2 separate regions of the Homo sapiens genome follow, and region 1 is reported to be linked to region 2. Evidence: microRNA targets listed by miRTarBase, many of them from high-throughput screens and not tested one by one. Region 2 holds a microRNA gene; the other region holds the end of a gene's coding sequence.

The links. The annotated mature microRNA hsa-miR-6752-5p reads GGGGGGUGUGGAGCCAGGGGGC and lies in region 2 at 2,193-2,214, opposite strand. An mRNA with a match to its seed (bases 2 to 7 or 8) in the 3' UTR can be bound and repressed. Matches are read on the target gene's strand: a 7mer-m8 pairs with bases 2 to 8, a 7mer-A1 pairs with bases 2 to 7 and ends in A, and an 8mer does both.
Region 1: miRTarBase lists IL2RB as a target of hsa-miR-6752-5p. Seed matches in the 3' UTR shown: 7mer-m8 at 3,100-3,106.

What each region holds. Positions count from the first base shown.
Region 1 is chr22:37,124,382-37,128,484 of GRCh38, forward strand. IL2RB (interleukin 2 receptor subunit beta) reads right to left here. Exons shown (of 10, transcript NM_000878.5): 10 at 1,462-4,103. The coding sequence ends at 3,715. Among named protein-coding and RNA genes, the nearest start is that of TMPRSS6, 17 kb to the left of the region's middle. RefSeq lists an enhancer at 2,767-2,816.
Region 2 is chr11:67,488,253-67,492,463 of GRCh38, reverse strand. It overlaps MIR6752 (microRNA 6752), which reads right to left and starts at 2,219; the gene lies at 2,149-2,219. It overlaps AIP (AHR interacting HSP90 co-chaperone), which reads right to left. Exons shown (of 6, transcript NM_003977.4): 3 at 3,009-3,197; 4 at 2,250-2,426; 5 at 2,007-2,148; 6 at 1,361-1,676. The coding sequence ends at 1,471. PITPNM1 (phosphatidylinositol transfer protein membrane associated 1) reads left to right here. Exons shown (of 24, transcript NM_004910.3): 24 at 168-696. The coding sequence ends at 431.

The sequences.
Region 1 (4,103 bases), not on the chromosome of region 2:
TCCACCTCCCTGGGCCTGTTTCCTAATCAGCAAAATGGGGAATAAAGCACCTGCTTCTCAAGGTTGTTTCCAGATGATGAGAGATGACGCCCAGGCCATGCTGGCACAATGTGTAGAGTGGAAGTATTGGTTCTCTTGCCCCTTCTTACTGTCCTCCTTGGTCTGTTTTTTCAGCTGTCAGTAATGAGGAGGACAGTGGTGGGTGCTTCATCCTGGACCTGGGCCTACAGTTTCCACCATAATTTACTTGGGAAATGCAGGCACCTGAAGTTGCTTCGAATGAGAGATGGGAGGTGGGGGAACGGAGGAAGCAAAATAACAAACCTAGTTCAACAAAGAGGAAACATGAGAGGCTGGAAGGCCCCCCCCTCCCCCCACCTCTCCTCCTTTTTCTCTTACCCCCAAGATCTGCCCTGGCTGCCTCCTGCTTCCCGCTCTGTACCTGACGGTTCTCCAGGGCCCCAGCGGCTGCCCGGTCCCCAGCTGGTGCCGCTCCTGTCTCCTGAATCTGACCCAGGCCCCTCCTGCAATCTGACCACCACCCCTGCCGCCAGCTGCTTCCTCTTTGTCTCCTCTCCCAAGATCCACACTCGGATCCACACTGGGCATGACACACAGTGACCGCTGGCCCATCCCTTCATCTGCACCCGGTATAAGGTGGCCCTGACTCTGCTCCCTGCCAGCTCAAGTCTCTCACCAGACATGGTGGGGACAGCTGGGCTCCCTGGGCTTGCCTCTCACAGGTCCCTCTCAGCTTTCCAGTCTCCATCCTCTCAGCTTCAGTTTTCCCTGCCTGGGAAATCGGAGTTGGGAAACCTAAGAGCTCCTTTTGTGTTAGGAACCTGAGGAATTATGCGGTCCAGAGATGTCATCAGCTATCAGCTGTGACCAACTGGGGGCTGCCTATAGCGCAGCATTGCAGAATCTGAAGCTGCACCCAGGCTCTGCAGGAGGAGAGCTGTGTTCAATTAGAAATGTCTGCCGTGCATGGGTGCAATTGATTAGTAATGTCTGCCATGAGTGTGGCTTTATGAATGCCAGGAATTGCCATCCCTGGTCTGGTCCAACTTTTATCAGGACACTATCTATCTATCATCTATCTACCTATCTGGAGGGAGGGGGATAGAGGGGGGGGGAGAGAGAGAGAGAGAGAGAGAGAGAGAGAGAGAGAGAGAGAGAGAGAGAGAGGAGAGAGAGAGAGATTCGTCATCAAGTGCAATATTTCCCCAGGCATAGACTTGTGGGATATGGCCATGAGCTGATACCTGGACACAGAATAAGACAGACAGTCCTGACTCCTATTAGTGAAAAAGATATTCCCTTTACAATCCTTTTCCTTTCTCTCAAGGAGGAAGTTTGCATTTGGCCCTGGGATGTCTTCGACAGCTCCCCAGCAGCTTCTCATTTCCCCTTTAAGAGACAACAGGTTTACCGCAGGCAATGAATATCAACACTATTTTGTTGCATTGTACTTATTTTGTACAGTTACCTTTTATTTATAGCGAAAATGGGTTTTTTCATTTACAGAGTAACAAAGATTTTTCTTTAAATAAATGTATTTCAACGAAAATGAACTGACTTAAAGAAAAAATATTAAGGAAATAATCACAAAGATGGTACACACGGATCATTAAAAGATACGGATGTATAGATACATATGTCACAAATGATTAAGACTTAAAAAATGTAACCCTCCCAAGAAGTGGGAGCCTCCCAAAGTGGAGAAGGCAAATACAATTTCCATTTGGGGGGATAAGGAGACCGACTTGCAGAGAGGATTAGTAGGTTGCCCCAGAACACACAGCAAAGGTGTGGAGCCCCTTGTGGTCTGAAACATTCAGGACCCTATGGCAGGAGGTGAGACTGTCCAATAATTCAGCTTTTTTCAAGGCATAGACCCAAGACTCAGACAACCTCAAGAAAGGGGAGTTTATTTTGGATATAAAGGCAACAGGAATCCTGACCAAATGGTCAGCAGCCCTCTCAGCAGTAGGTATTTTTGTATTGGGAACCCAAGGTCCTCTGCTTAGTGGCTCAACGCTTGTCTACCTTTCCAAGGCTCAACGCTTGTGGAGCCTTGTCCACAAGCACCTGCTCCCAAGGGCCTCCCTCCCTGAGTTCAAACGCCCAAGACAGAGTTGATCTGATTGGCTAGTTCAGGCCCAGCCTACCTGATTGGACAGAGCTTGGTGCCAAACCCCCTCATAGGCTGCTGGTCAGAGCCTGTGGGGGCGTGTGGTCAGGTGCCCAATCAGCTGTGAGCAAGGCCTGTAAGTGCAGGTGCCTGAGGGCTCCCAGGTCAGAGTTAGCTGGGACTGGGGTCACTGTCCTGCTGGGGTGGAATGTTGTTTGAGCCATTGCAACGTGATCTGCCTAGGAAAGATACGTGGAGGGGTCGGGGTAGGGGGTTGAGCCCCTTGCAGGAGGGGGCATGCCAGACCTAATGGGCACGGGACTCTGCCTCTCTGTGTGAATGTCAGGCGCAGGGAGCCCAGACGAGGTGGTGCCAGGTAATTAATTCGTTCATCCAGGGTATACGACGGGGTGTTGGGCACTGTGTCTGGGGCAGTGAAAAATAATGAGGCCCTGCCCTGTGGAGCTGCCCTTCTGGAGGCCAGTGTGCCAGTCCCTGAGCTGCAGAGGAGACCCCTCCAGTGGAGGGGGCAGTGGGAGGTCCCAGGCCTGGCAGCATCAGGGCCCACCACTAGGCGGGGCTGCTGCCTGGGCCTCGGACTCCAGGGTTTACTCCCCATCAGCTTCTCTTGTGGGTCTGTGAAGCCACTGTGGGAAGATGCAGCAGGCATCCACTTTGTGGGGGGATCTGTGCCCTTACTTGGGCCCCAGCATTAAAGATACAGCAGCCAAGCACTCTGAGGCCTCAGAGATCCCAAAGGAATAGTAACAGGGCCTCTTTCTCCAGGCGCCCTGGGTCCCTGACAGCTTCTCCCTCCAGCACTGACGCTAGAAGTTTCTGGCAGATTAAGGGAGGCAGTGCTTCCCTCCAGGAGAAGCAAAACCGGCACTTGAAGAGTCAGGGAAGTTTGTCACCTAGATGAGGGGGAGCGCACAGCAGCCCCAGGGAATAGCATGTGCAACAGAGGGGGTGTGAGGGAGCTCTGAGTGGCTCAGGAGGACGGTAGGGAGGATTGCAGAAGGGGATGTCCCCACACGACACCGGAGGTACAAGTACCAGGCTGAGAAGTGGGGCTGAGGGCAGTGGGACCTGTGCAAGGTTTTGAACCGAGGGGGAGCGTGGCCATATTTGGGTTTTGGAAAGCACGCTCAGGCTGCCCTGTGGACGGGGAGGGGAGGGAAGGAGGAGGCTGGGGCAGAAAACCCAGGGAAGAGGTCAGGGCAGGGAGCCCTGGAGAGCCGCGAGGACTGATATTGGTGAATAGCTGCAGGGCTGGAGAGGAGCGATGCTTCTGAGCCTAAATTCGTGGGATCCTGTGATTAACGAGGGAGTTGGGGAGTTACTGCCCCCCTGCAACACACACAGTTCCTGGCTCGGGCAGCAGGACCCGGGAGCAGCAGTGGAGGTTTGGAAATGGATGGACCAAGTGTGCAGGACTGGGTGGGGGCCATCCGGGTGGAGAAGTCCAGCTGCAACTGGACACTGAGTGTCCTCAGCAGTGGACTGAGGACCCTCAACAGGGTCCTTCTGAGGCTCGGCGCAGAGCAGGCAGCTGCCTGCCTCCCACCCTGGCCATCTGTCTACACCAAGTGAGTTGGGTCCTGACCCTGGAGTTCTTGGAGGGACAAGTAGGCATCAGTGTTCAGGGGCAGGCGAGCATTAAGGGCCCTGAACTCCCCCTGCCCAGGAGGCCTGGACCAGGGGAAACTGACTCCCTCCCTGGGGCCAGCGTCAGGGACCTCCTCCCCAGCCTCTCGCAGCACCAGCTCAGGGGGTGGCTGAAAATCCACCAGGTCTGGGACTCCTGGGGTGGGAGGCCCCAGGGGCTGGGGGTCCCAGTCTCTGGGGACTCTTTCTTGCAAAGAAGGGGGCATCCTCTCTTCACCGGCCCCACTGCCCCCAGGGGCAGTGCTTGGGGGGCTGGGGCCACCGAGGAGACTGGGGGAGAAGAGCAGCAGGTCATCCCTGG
Region 2 (4,211 bases):
CCTGGCTCCCAGCCTGGGGTCCTATCTATTGAGAAGGCTTCAGCTCAGGCTGTGCCAAGCCTGCCACCAGTCCCCCAGCCTGCCTCAGGTGCCTCTGGAGGACCGTGGAGGGCAGCGTGTGGGCCCTTGGCCAGCACCCCCTCATCGCTGCCTACCTCTGCCCACAGTTCCTGTCAGACGGCTATGTGGCCCACCTGGGCCAGCTGGAAGCGGGCTCGCACTCGCATGCCTCCTCGGGACCCCCGAGAGCTGCCTTGGGCAAGAGCAGCTATGGTGTGGCTGCCCCCGTGGACTTCCTGCGCAAACAGAGCCAGCTGCTTCGCTCGAGGGGCCCCAGCCAGGCGGAGCGTGAGGGCCCGGGAACACCACCCACCACCCTGGCACGGGGCAAAGCACGGAGCATCAGCCTGAAGCTGGACAGCGAGGAGTGAGGCCCACACCAGCCTGGACCTGGGTTATTTATTGACACACCCAAGGGGCCCGAGGGGCTGCGTGTGGGAGGCTGGGGACCCAGACTTTTGGCCCCAGCGCTGGCCCCCCCAGCCCCACACCCTATATCTCCGTGTGCTCCTCGGTGTTACTTCCCTTTCATATGAGGGGACCCAGCGCCGGGGGGAGGGAGGAGGGCGTGGGCATGGGCGCAGAGGCTTTTCCAGTGTGTATAAATCCATGAAAATAAACGCCACCTGCACCCCACCCACTCACCCCATGCCTGGCATCACAGGGCAGCCAGCCCAGTTTCCAGTTCAACAGGGGACACTGATGTGCACAGAGAGGCCAACACACACCCAGGGCCATCCAGCTCACAGGCAGGGTCAGGATGGGGGCCTGGGCCTCAAAAGGTCGCACGAAACCCACGCCCAGGGCCATCCATGTCACAGGCAGGTCAGGATGGGGGCCTGGGCCTCAAAAGGTCTCACGAAGCGCTCGGCCCTCTCCTCTTTCTGGACAGTCAGCCCACCCCAGCCCAACCCGGCTCACCTCAGCCCCAGCGTAGCTTCTCATGGAAACCCTGCCCCCAGACACCGAGGCCAGGAGACCATGGGATCCGAGGCTGGAGTGGGAGGGCAGCACCAGGAGACTACCTCCCTCAGGTGCCCAGCTACCTAGCTTGTACCCACTTCATCTCCCCCTTAAGACTGTGGGCTCCTGGGGCGCCCCAGCCCTGGCCAGCGAGAGACACTTCCTTGGTGAAAGAGCTCATCGTAATTTCTCTAACAGGGACACCAGAGCCTCAGAGCTGGTGGGTGGAGGGGCTAGGATTTGAACCCTGATTCTTTGCCTCCCAACAGCCACCCAAGTACCAGGAATGCCAGGTGATGACCCGGCTCTCCCAGTGGAGCAGCTCAGCAGACTCAGAGAGAGATAAATAAAGGCCTTTATATACACAGAAGCATGACGCAGCACGGGCAGGGGGGCTGGCAGCTGCAGCAGTGGGCTTGGCAGGTAAGGCAGGGCCAAGTGCTCCTGTCAATGGGAGAAGATCCCCCGGAACCGGGCTTTGTCCTCTTCGTCCTTCTGCCGGATCCGTGCCTCCAGGGCCCGCAGCTCTCGGCTCACCACAGGCGCCAGGGCTGGGTCCAGCTCCAGCACTTTGGCAAAGTCAGCCTGGGCCTCCTGGGCATTCCACACGGCCGCGTGGGCCTTGCCCCGCTTGAAGTAGGCCTTGACGTTGTCTGCAGGGGAGGCCAGTGGGCAGTGGGCATGCAAGGGCATGAGGGGGGATCCTGGCCAGCTGCCTGCCCTCATGTCTCCTGGCACCATGGGCCCACAGGGGAGAGAGAGCCCTCCCTGACCTGAGGATGCCACCCCACCCCCAATACACCATTCATGCTTCATTGGCACAATGGGGCCCACAGCCCTGCCGAGTAGAGGCATTTAGTCAGGCCCCCGTGGGAGCTCAGAATGGGGGTTGTGAAAGGCTAGGTCTTGACCCCAGCAGTGACAGGAGAAAGGCCACTCTCTGACCACTCGCAGCCCCCGGCAGCCCAGGGCCCGGTGCTCACCGTCGTACTTGTTGAGGATGGAAGAGCAGTGGTCCAGCACCTCGTAGTACTCCTCGACCACCAGCTTGCACTGGCAGTAGTTGAGCAGCAGCGGCGTGATCTGCTGGTCCAGCTGGATCCATTCAGGGGACCCAGGCTGTTCCTGGGAGTATGGGGGCAGGGAGCGGGGAGAAGCTGTAGACCTGGGCCCCCTGGCTCCACACCCCCCTCCATCCATCCTCCCCCTCAGCCTCCAGGCAGTACCTTCATCTGCAGGTTCTTGAGGCAGGCAATGGCATCGTAGTACTTGGCAGCAGCCTCCTTCACATGCCCCTCGCGGTACAACCGGTTGCCCTCCTGGTGGATAAGTGGCACTGCCTTTGCCTTCTCTTCGTCTGTCATGGCCCATGGGTCCTGCTGGTACGTGCCAGGGCTCTCCACCTGCAGGGCATGGGGCATATCACAGCGGGGCTCGGGGACACCACAGCTGCGTCCGTCAGCAGCAGACCTGACCCACATCTGGGCTGGCTGGGCCCCCAGACATCACACACCAGCAGCAGAGCTACTTGTCACTCAAAAAGCATCAAACATCGATGTCACATCTCCTGTGTGCCCAGCACTGTGCCAAGTGCTAAGAATAGAACAGTGAACAAGACGGTGAAAAGCCCTGCCCTCGCAGAGATCATGCTGCATGGCAGGTTCCCTAAATGGACAAGGAAATCCATGAATTCCAAGGGACTTCAAGGTGCGGCAGAGGCTATAAAGGAAATGAGCTGCTGCGAGACAGAGAATGAGGAGACCGGGTGGGCAGGGCCGGTTTCCTGGAGGAGGTGACATTTGAGATGTGAAGGAGGAGGAAAGGAGACCCAGGGTACTGCCAAGGGTCCTGCACAGGTTTTCTTGTCTCTGTCCGCTCCCCCAGCAGTCCACCTGCGGATCCCACCACCCCTGGGTGGACAGGCCAGCGCCGCCCTGAGGCTGGGCAGTGGGGGCCTGGTGAGACCAGGCGCGGTGGCCCCTCACCTTCAGCATCTCCATGTGGAAGATGAGGGGCTGGGGGTTCTGCTGCAGGGCGTCCAGGTCAGCATGGCCCAGGGAGCTGTGTTCACGCATCTGTGCAACACCGCAGCAGTGCCGCTGGCCCTCCAGGGGGTCCTTGCCCACCGCGATGTTGCGGAGACTCTTGGCCACCAGCGGGTACAGGACCACATGCTGCGGGAAGGCAAGGGCGCCGGGGGCTCTGTCACCGTGGGCTGGCTGGTCACCGGGTCCACAAGGCCCAGCCCCCTTCCCCACCACCATCTGAGAACAAACACCAAGGCCCAGAGAGTGACAACTGGGACCCTACTCCGTTTAAGCACAGGAGGCTTTTAATTCAGGACTCCTCCAGTCGCTCAGCCCTCTCTCCTGGTGAAGCCCCAGCTTCTGCCACATTCTCTGGCCACCAAACAGAGCACCTAACCCCCTCCTCACCCCCACCACAGACACATGCCTACCATCAACCCCTGTCTCCCTGGTCCTTACAGGCCCAGTAGAATTCTTACCTCCTCTCCCTCCAGAGGATAAGGCCCTTTGCTGGACTATGCAAAGAACTGGGGCCCCCCACATTCTGTTCCCAGCAGCTCCTCCTTCTGCCCCACCCACACCCCACTGAGGGCCTACCTCAGAGCTGGGCCCAGGCCAGCCACTTCAAAACCCTCAGGGAGGCCGGATGTGGTGGCTCACGCCTGTAATCCTAGCACTTCGGGAGGCCAAGGCGGGCGGATCACCTGAGGTCAGGAGTTCAAGACCAGCCTGACCAACATGGTGAAACCGCGTCTCTGCTAAAATACAAAAATGAGCCGGGCACGATGGCAGGTGCCTGTAATCCCAGCTACTCAGGCAGCTAAGGCAGAGAATCAGCTGAACCCAGGAGATGGTGGTTGCAGTGAGCCAAGATCACGCCACTGCACTCCAGCCTGGGCAACAGAGTGAGACTTAGTCAAAAAAAAAAAAACCCCACAGGGAGACAGGCATAGGGGACCTAGCCTCTAATCTCTTGCTTGGCAAAGCTGCTAGGCTGGTGGGAACCAGATAACCAGATTCCTCCTACCCGGGTCCTCCCCACTCCTCCCACTGCCCTGTTGTCTGGACAGGGGCTGACTGCCGGGCTGCCATCAGCGGGCATTTCCTGAGTCTTGGCTCTGGACTGGCTCGCGCTGGGCATCCCAAAGCTAGAAGTAAACA